Linked DNA regions of Homo sapiens: region 1 is linked to region 2. Evidence: fine-mapped expression QTL. Tissue or cell type: whole blood. Region 2 holds a variant in brackets; the other region holds the start of a gene. All regions are shown on one strand. Distances are between the middles of the regions.

What was found. PIP is the estimated chance that this variant, and not a neighbour inherited with it, causes the effect.
Region 1: it holds the start of GRN, and the variant in region 2 is fine-mapped to the expression of GRN in whole blood (TOPMed, PIP above 0.99).

Annotation. Positions count from the first base shown.
Region 1 is chr17:44,342,739-44,347,738 of GRCh38, forward strand. It overlaps GRN (granulin precursor), which reads left to right and starts at 2,564. Exons shown (of 13, transcript NM_002087.4): 1 at 2,564-2,596. RefSeq lists enhancers at 610-1,535, 2,687-2,836.
Region 2 is chr17:44,480,705-44,485,964 of GRCh38, forward strand. The region is part of intron 1 of GPATCH8 (G-patch domain containing 8); the gene reads right to left. Among named protein-coding and RNA genes, the nearest start is that of GPATCH8, 20 kb to the right of the region's middle. The variant G/A (reference allele first, on the strand shown) is at 3,258.

The DNA of each region.
Region 1 (5,000 bases), 140 kb before region 2:
GGGTGACTGCTAAAGGACATAAGGCTGCCTTCTGTGGTGATAAAAATGGTCTTAAACTGATTGTAATGATGCTGCATAACTCTCTTAAGACACTAAAAACCATTGAGTTGTACACTTTAATTTTTTTGTGTTGGCGGGGGTGGATGGAGTCTCGCTCTGTTGTCCAGGCTGGAATGCAGTGGCACGATCTCGGTTTACTGCAACCTCTGCATCCCGGGTTCAAGCGATTCTCCTGCCTCGGCCTCCTGAGTAGGGAATTACAGACCTCGTTATCGTGGCACCTTACCCTTCTGATGTTAAAAAAAAAAAAAAAAAGAGCGAGAGAGAGAGAGAGAAACATTTGTGAAGTAGGTTGTTGAGTCTCAGCACTATTGACCTTTTGGGCAGGATACTTCTTTGTTGTGGGGGATTGTTCTGTGTGTCGTGTGATGTTTAGTGGGATTGCTGGCCCTTACCTACCAGATGCCAGTGTCCCTCCACCCTGAGTTGTGACAACCCAGATTGTCTCCAGACACTCCTAAATGTCCCTGGCCGGCAAAATTGCCGCTGCTCAAGAATCACGGCTTTGACGATTAGACTTTGTGATATTTGTTTCAGTCTGTTTAGGTTTTTTTTCTTCTACCTGTATTTTTTTCTGGTTCTGGGTGGTTGTAATTAGTAGGTTATTGATCGATTCACCTAACATTTCATGAAAGTTTCATGTGTGTGTGTGTTTCAATAGAAGCATAAACTATACTCCCTAGTCTCAAGATACACAGGAAGGAAAATAAGCACAAATGTGTCACCAGGGCACAGACTAGTACTAGGTCCTCAGCAGGCCAGGTGTCTTATCCGCTGTCTGGGTCTGCTCTAGCTCCAGGCTTAGAACCCCTGCCACACGACTCCACAGCTCGGTTGGCACCCTTTCCCTCCTCCGACTTCTGCTGCCTCGAGCTTGGTTAGCCATCCCCCTGCCCCTGCCTCATCCTCAGCTCCAGTTCCTTGCTCAGGCTGCAGCAGTCTCCATCCCCTGTGCAGACACTGCCGTTCCTCCACGGCCCAGTATCAGGCTTTCCCTGGGCCTCTCCTCTCTCCTGGCCCATCTCCCATCATCCATCTCTGCCTGGCCCAGGCCCTTTGGCACCAAGCAGGCTGACTCTTGTCACTGGCTAATCTGTTCTGTGGTACATTTTCTCTCCTCACCCTCCCATATCAATTCCTCGAAGGCAGGGCCGATCTGGAGACTAGGAAGCCACTTCTCTTTCGACAGCCCCCACCACAGCCCAGCCCGTGCCAGGCACCCAGCAGCTCCTGAAGCCCACTGGCATTGAACATGGCATTCAATCCCTGCCAAGCCTGCCCTTCCCATCTGGTTTCCCAGGGCTCTTCCCAACACCTCCTCCTCCACCTGCCAGTTAAAATCTTCCCAGACTCAGCTCAAGGAGATGCTCCTAAGGTGGAATGAAATCTCTTCTTCCCCACCTGGAGACAATCTACTTCCTCTCCCTACACCTGGCAACTGGCGCACAACCTTGTATCTTAAATTAGATTCAGCCTGAGACTGTCTCCCACCAATCCCTGCTCCCTGTCCTGCTGAGCACCTTGAGGAAAGGGCTTTGGGGCTGTTTATCTTTGTCCTGGAAACCATCCTTCAACTCACTCTGGGGCCTGCCTAGCATGTCAACCGAGTTTGGAGAATAGGGCAGAATAGGGCAGGACAGGACAGGACAAGACAGGGCAGGATAGGATAGGAGCGAGCCAGCTCAGTAGCTCACATTTGTAATCCCAGCGCCTTGGGGGGCTGCGGTAGGAGAATCGCTTTGGGAGCAGGAGTTGCAGGCCGCAGTGAGCTATGATCAGCTTGGGCGACTGAGCGAGACCCTGTCTCTAAAACAAACACACAAGTCCGGGCGCGGTGGCTCATGCCTGTAATCTTAGCACTTTGGGAGGCCGAGGTGGGCGGATCACGAGGTCAAGAAATCGAGACCATCCTGGCCAACATGGTGAAACCCCGTCTCTACTAAAAATACAAAAATTAGCTGGGCGTGGTGGTGCGCGCCTGTAGTCCCAGCTACTCGGGAGGCTGAGGCAGGAGAATCGCTTGAACCCGGGAGGCAGAGGTTGCAGTGAGCCGAGATCGTGCCACTGCACTCCAGCCTGGCGACAGAGTGAGACTCCGTCTCAGAACAAACAAACAAAAGGATAGAAAGGCGAGCACAAATATTCCCAATTCATAACACTCCCTCGCACTGTCAATGCCCCAGACACGCGCTATCATCTCTAGCAAACTCCCCCAGGCGCCTGCAGGATGGGTTAAGGAAGGCGACGAGCACCAGCTGCCCTGCTGAGGCTGTCCCGACGTCACATGATTCTCCAATCACATGATCCCTAGAAATGGGGTGTGGGGCGAGAGGAAGCAGGGAGGAGAGTGATTTGAGTAGAAAAGAAACACAGCATTCCAGGCTGGCCCCACCTCTATATTGATAAGTAGCCAATGGGAGCGGGTAGCCCTGATCCCTGGCCAATGGAAACTGAGGTAGGCGGGTCATCGCGCTGGGGTCTGTAGTCTGAGCGCTACCCGGTTGCTGCTGCCCAAGGACCGCGGAGTCGGACGCAGGTAGGAGAGCGGCCGCGCAGACCTCTCGCCTGCTCCTGCCCAGGGGCCCGCCAGGGCCATGTGAGCTTGAGGTTCCCCTGGAGTCTCAGCCGGAGACAACAGAAGAACCGCTTACTGAAACTCCTTGGGGGTTCTGATACACTAGGGGGAGTTTTATGGGAAAGAGGAAGCAGTAATTGCAGTGACGCCCCGTTAGAAGGGGCTTTCTACCTCCCCAGCATTCCCCCAAAGCAGGGACCACACCATTCTTGACCCAGCTCCACCCCTGTCGGTAGGTGCTGGCTTCTTCCCCTCTCCTGGTGGTGGTGGGTGGTTCCCGCGGCGGCCTGGAGCCGGAGGGGCGCGCGACCCTGGGCTGGGAGCTCCGAGGGCCTGGGAACGAGACCTGAGACCTTGGCTTCTCGAAGGTAGTAGGGACTTGGGAGTGGTGACTGAACCTGGTCTGGCTCCTCCTTACTTCCTCTTGTTGCGGGTGGGACGAGCTAGCTTCCGCCTCTCCCAGCCACTTTTTCCTGCTCATTTGCAGCTAGGTTGGCTCCCCTTTTGGGAATTTCCTCTCCCCTTGGCACTCGGAGTTGGGGGGTGCCACCTAGTGGAAGATAACGGAGCTAGGGTCTTGAAGAGGCTGCTGTCCCCTCTGGCTGTTTTGGCGGTGTAGGGTGGCATGAGAGACTGCGACTCGCCTCCTCATCCCTGTTTCTGTATGCGAGTGCTTGTATTCAGTAGAAGCATACACTATACTCCCTCAATTTAGGGTAAACAGGAGGGGCCACATGCACAGGTAATTCACCAGGGAGCCGAACACTCCTGTGCAGACAGACTCCCCTTCCCAGCAAGCCATGGCAGCGGACAGCCTGCTGAGAACACCCAGGAAGCAGGCGGTGCCAGCTGCAGGTGCTTTGCCTGGGAGCTGTGGGGCTGAGGAGAGGGTCCACTGTCCAGGACCAGTGAACTTCATCCTTATCTGTCCAGGAGGTGGCCTCTTGGGGATGCTGAGTTAGGGGAGGGGCACTTGAGGAAAGCCAGGTGGAGCAGAGAGGATGTGAGTGACTGGGTGGGTGAGATTTCCTGCCCCTCCCCCCGCAGTGGTATCCACACCTAGACTCGTGGGGTAACTGAGGCACAGACAGAGAGCAACTTCTCAGGCCCTCACAGTTGGCAATTCTAGGATTAGGACCCAAGTGCGATTTTCAGGCAGTCCCTGTACCCTGTTTCTGTTGTACCTGTTGCACCATTCCCAGGCACTGCCCATCGTGCCACTAGTGATATGAACCCAGGTCCAATACGCTCTGGGGCCATCAAAGCCTGACGTCACCATGACCTGATGTGTGACGTGTTATAGGTGTCCCTTGGTATCTTCACGGAACTGGTTCCAGGACCCCAAAATCTGTGGGTGCTCAAGCCCCTGAGATAAAATGGTGTAATATTTGCATATAACCTATACATACTTTAAATCATTTCTAGATTACTTATACCTAATACAATGGAAATGACATGTCGGCTGGGCGTGGTGGCTCATGCCTGTAATCCCACCACTTTGGGAGGCCGTGGCAGGTGGATCACCTGAGGTCTGGAGTTTGAGACCAGCCTGACCAACATGGTGAAACCCCCATCTCTACTAAAAATACAAAAATTAGCCAGGTGTGGTAGCGCACACCTATAATCCCACCTACTTGGGAGGCTGAGGCAGGAGAATTGCTTGAACCTGGGAGGCGGAGTTCGCAGTAAGCTGAGATCGCGCCACTGTACTACAGCCTGGGTGACAGAGCAGGACTCCATCTCAAAAAAAAAAGAGAAAAAGAAAAAGAAATGCCATGTAAATAGTTGTGATCCTGAATTGTTTAGGGAATAATAAGAAAGAACTATCTGTAGATGTTCAGTATAGATGCACCCATCGTAAGCCTAACTACATTGTATAACTCAGCAACGATGTAACATTTTCAGGGGTTTTTTTGTTTTGTTTTTTGAGACAGAATCTCAGTCTCACTCTGTCACCCAGGCTGGAGTATGTTGGCGTGATCTCTGCTCACTGCAACCTCCACCTCCTGGGCTCAAGCGATTCTCCTGCCTCAGCCTCTTGAGTAGCTGGGATTGCAGGTGTGCGCTACCACGCATGGCTAATTTTTGTATTTTTAATAGAGATGGGGTTTTACCACGTTGGTCAGGCTGGTCTTGAACTCCTGACCTTGGGATCCGCCCACCTGGGCCTCCCAAAGTGCTGGGATTACAGGCGTTAGCCACCGCGCCCAATATATTTTGATCCCTGGTTGGATATGGAGGGCTGACTGTACTTAACATCTCTAAGCTTCAGTTTCCTCCTTTAAAATAAAGGTGTGGCTGGGTGTGGTGGTTCAAGCCTGTAATCCCAGCACTTAGGGAGGCTGAGGTGGGTGGATCAGCTGAG
Region 2 (5,260 bases):
GGCAAAAAAAAAAAAAATTAGCTGGGTACGATGACAGGCGCCTGTAATCCCAGCTACTCAAGAGGCTGAGGCAGGAGAATCGCTTGAACCCGGGCGGCAGAGGTTGCAGTAAGCCGAGATCACGCCACTGCACTCCAACCTGGGTGACAGAGTGAGACTCCAGTCTCAAAAACAAAAACAAAAACAAAAAAAAACAACCTAATACCACTTCATTTGTTTGGAGAGACAGTCTCTCTCAGTTGTCCAGGCTGGAATGCAGTGGCACCATCATGGCTCACTCCAGCCTCAACCCTCCTTGGGGCTTAAGCAATCCTTCCCATTTCAGGCTCCCGAGTAGCTGGGACTAGAGGTGCACGCCACTACACCAAGCTAATTTTTGTATTGTTGGTAGAGATGGGGTTTTGCCATATTGCCCAGACTGGTCTCGAACTCTTGGGCTCAATCTGCCCATCTTAGCCTCCCGAAGTGCTGGGATTACAGGCGTGAGCCCTCCTCTGATAAAATTTCAGACGAGCAACTTTCATAGATTACTGATGGGAACATAAAATAGTACACTCAACTTAAAACACCTGTCTGTGAATGTTTTTAACAACTTTATTTGTACGCTAGAAACTATCCAAATGTCAACTGAGAAATGAACTTTAAAAACTATGGTATACCCCATACAATGAGATATTACTTGGCACTAAAAAGAAACAAATTATTCATACAAGTAGTAACAGAGATGAATCTCAAATTAATTATGCTAAGTGAAAAGAAGCCATACTCAAAAGGCTTCCATATATAGGACATTCTGGAAAAAACAAAGCTAAAGAAAAGAAAAAGATCAGTGATTGTCAGAAGCTATACACTGGTTGTTGTGGTGGCTGCACTATGATGCGTTTTGTCAATACTCAAATTGTACTTTTTTTTCACCGTCTTATGGTGCTGATGAACTGTACATGTAAATGGGCGAATTTCACTGTATCTTAATTGTACTTAAATTTTTTGAAAAATGGTGAAAACAGGCTAAATATTTCTGTATTTCACCTCTAAAAAATGTATTTTTTGAATACTTAAATTAAAATCCTGTTCCATAGGCAGATTGTAGTGGCAGTTATAAGAATCTATAAATGTGTTAAAATTCATAGAACTAGGCTGGGCATGGTGGCTTACACCTGTAATCCCAGCACTTTGGGAGACCAAGGCAGGCAGATCACTTGAGGTCAGGAATTTGAGACCTGACTGGCCAACATGGAGAAACCCCATCTCTGCTAAAAATAGAAAAATTAGCCGGGTGTGGTAGTACACGCCTGATATCCAGGTCCTCAGGAAGCTGAGGCAGGAGAATCGCTTGAACCTACAAGGCAGAGGTTGCAGTGAGCCAAGGTGTCGCCACTGCACTCCAGCCTGGGCGACAGAGTGAGACTCTTGTCTCAAAAATAAATAACCCCATGTTCTCACTCTTAAGTGGGAGCTGAACAATGAGAACACATGGACACAGGGAGGGGAACATTATACACTGGGGCCTGTCAGTGGGTGGGGGGCAAGGGGAGGGAAAGCATTACGACAAATACCTAATGCGTACGGGACTTAAAACCTAGACGAGGCTGGGCGCAGTGGGTCATGCCTGTAATACCAGCACTTTGGGAGGCCAAGACAGGTGGATCTTGAGGTCAGGAGTTCAAGACCAGCCTGGCCAACATGGTGAAACCCCGTCTCTACTAAAAACACAAAAAAATTAGCCGGGTGTGGTGGCGGGCGCCTGTAATCTCAGCTACTCAGAAGGTTGAGGCAGGAGAATCGCTTGAATGCAGGAGGCGGAGGCTGCAGTGAGCCGAGATCACACCACTGCACTTCAGCCTGGGCGACAGAGCCAGACTCCATCTCAAAAAAAAAAAAAAAAAAACCAAACCAAACCTAGATGACGGGTTCGTAGGTGCAGCAAACCACCATGGTACATGTATACCTATGCAACAAACCTGCATGTTTTGCACATGTATCCCAGAACTTAAAGTAAAATTAAAAAAAATATATTTCTATCAAAAAATAAATTCATAGAAATCCATATCAAATAAGTCAATACTACTGCATGTTAATTTTCAAAACTAAACTAAAAAACATGTACAGAGCAGCTCTAGAATACATTAGAAGCTTGTAGTAGAAGTTAACTCTTAGAAATGGGTGTCTAGGCCGGGCGCGGTGGCTCACGCCTGTAATCCCAGCACTTTGGGAGGCCGAGGCAGGCGGATCACGAGGTCAGGAGATCGAGACCATCCTGGCTAACACGGTGCAACCCCGTCTCTACTAAAAATACAAAAAATTAGCCAGGCATGGTGGCTGGTGCCTGTAGTCCCAGCTACTCAGGAGGCTGAGGCAGGAGAATGGTGTGAACCCAGGAGGCGGAGCTTGCAGTGAGCCGAGACAGCACCACTGCACTCTGCCTGGGCGAAAGAGTGAGACTCCGTCTCAAAAAAAAAAAAAAAAAAAAAAATATATATATATATATATATATATATATATATATATATATACAGCCTACCTCTCATATCTCTTAGACACTCATTTCTTTTTTTTGTTTTTTTGAGATGGAGTCTCACTCTGTCACCTAGGCTGGAGTGCAGTGGCACCATCTCGGCTCACTGCAACCTCCGCCTCCCGGGTTCAAGACATTCTCCTGCCTCAGCCTCCTGAGTAGCTGGGACTACAGGCACCCACCACCACACCTGGCTAATTTTTGTATTTTTAGTAGAGATGGGGTTTCACCATATTGGCCAGGCTGGTCTTGAACTCCTGACCTTGTGATCTGCCCACCTCGGCCTCCCAAAGTGTTGGGATTACAGGCGTGAGCCACCGCGACTGGCCGAGGTAGGCTATTTTTAACTGCATTTTTTTCTTTTGAATTTCATACTTACTGCATTTTAAAATAAAATTCAAAATATTTAATCAGAAATTTACTTTATTTTTTATTTTTTTGAGACAGAGTCTTGCTGTGTCACCCAGGCTGGAGTGCTGTGGCACGATCTCAACTCACTGCAACCTCTGCCCCCTGGGTTCAAGTAATTCTTGTGCCTCGGCCTCCCAAGAAACTGGTATTACAAGCATGCACTACCAGGCTCGGCTAATTTTTGTTTGGTTGTTTTTGTTGTTGTTGTTGTTGTTGTTGTTGTTGTTTTGAGACAGAGTCTCATTCTGTTGCCCAGGCTGGAGCACAGTGGCGTGATCTCAGCTCACTGCAACCTCCACCTCCCAGGTTCAAGCGATTCTCCTGCTTCAGC[G/A]TCCCGAGTAGCTAGGACTATAGGCAAATGCCACCACACCCAGCTAATTTCTGTATTTGTAGTAGAGACAGGGTTTCACTGTGTTAGCCAGGATGGTCTTGATCTCCTGACTTCGTGATCCGCCCGCCTCGGACTTCCAAAGTGCTGGGATTACAGGTGTGAGCCACCATGCCAGACCAATTTATTTATTTATTTATTTTTTAGCAGAAACAGGGTTTCGCCATGTTGGCCAGGCTAGTCTCGAACTCCTGGCCTCAAGCAATTTGCCTGCCTCAGCCTCCCAAAGTGCTGGGATTACAGGTGTGAGCCACCATGCGCAGCCCAGAAATTTATTTTAAATGGCGTTGATTCAAACATACATTTAGTTTTCATTTTAAAAGCTCAAAGGTAAACACAAAATAACATCAAAATATCCATTAAGGTTATATGAAACTTTTTAAAGCTTAAAGTAACAGACCACCTAATTTTCTTGCCTGGCTTCTCAATATTTGACACCAGAGTCACACTTTTGCTGCTGAAAAGTTGGCTACAAAAAACACGGGCAAACCAGGTGTGGTGGGTGGTTCACACCAGGTGGGTAGGTAGTAATCCCAATGCTTTGGGAGGCCAACTCTGACACATTATTATTAACTAAAGTCCATACTATATTCAGATTATCTTAGACTTCCTCTAATGGTCTTTTTCTGTTCTAGGATCCCACAGAGGATACCACATTACATTTTGTTGTCATGTCACTTTAGGCTTCTTTTGGCTGTGAGTTTCAAAAAACTTTTAAAAAGTAAAACTTAATGTTGTAATTGTCATGTTAAATTTCGCCCTAATTTGATATTTCAATGTATCATAAGTGCTATGATGTGTCCTGCAGCATAGTGGGACCCTCTGTCTAACTTTTATTATGTATTTGTTTGTGATTCAATCTCAGCTCACTGAAGCCTCAACCTCCCAGGCTCAAGTGATCCTCCCACCTCAGCTCCCCAAGTGCTGAGACCACAGGCACATGCCACCATGCCTGGCTACATTTTTTTGTATTTTTTTTAGAGACTGGGTTCCATCATGTAGCCCAGAATGGTCTCGAACTCCTGAGCTCAAGAGATCGCCCGCCTCAGCCTCCCCAAGTGCTGGGATTACAGGTGTGAGCCCACCATGCCAAGCCTGTTTTTATTTTCTGAGACAAGGTCTCACTCTGTCATCCATGTTGGAGTGCAGTGACACAATCTTGGCTCACCGCACCTCCTGGGCTCAAGTGATTCTCCCACTTCAGCCCCCCAAGTGGCTGGGACTACAGGTGCAAGCCACCACACCCGTCTAATGTTTTCATTTAAAAATTTTTTTTTGTAGACTTGGAGTCTTGCCATGTTCCCAGCATGGTTTCAAACCCCTGGTCTCAGGTGATCCCCCTGCTTCGGCCTCCAAAAGTGCTAGGATTATAGGCTTGAGCCACAGCGCCTGGCCTTTACTAATGTTTGATTTTCTGTTTATTTTTGAGATAGGGTCTCGCTCTGTCACTCAGGCTGGAATGCAGTGGCACAATCTCGACTCACTGCAGACTCCGTCTCCTGAGCTCAAACGATCCTCCCACCTTGGCCTCCCAAAGTGCTGGGATTCCTGCTGTGAGCCATCCCGCCCAGCCTCTAATAAAGTTTTTAAAAGCAAATCTGGCCAGGCTACCATTCCCTCAATGAGAGTGTCCCCACACTCTTCCTATGCCCCCAGCCCTAAGACCAACTCACTTAACTCACTTTTACTTTGAAGTCTTGTCTGACACTCCTTCTCTGTGCTCCTTTAGCTTTATGTTTATACCTTCGTTATGGTACTTGTACTGTGACTCCCTGTTTACTTATCTCCTCTACCATAAAGCATGTTCTTTAAGTCCAGGTACTCTTTCTTCATCTATATGCCCTATATAAGAACATTTTCTAGTACACTAGTGAATATTATGTGTTTATTTAGAATAACTAAAGGTCTCCCTGTCACCCAAGCTACGGGGCAGTGGTGCAATCACA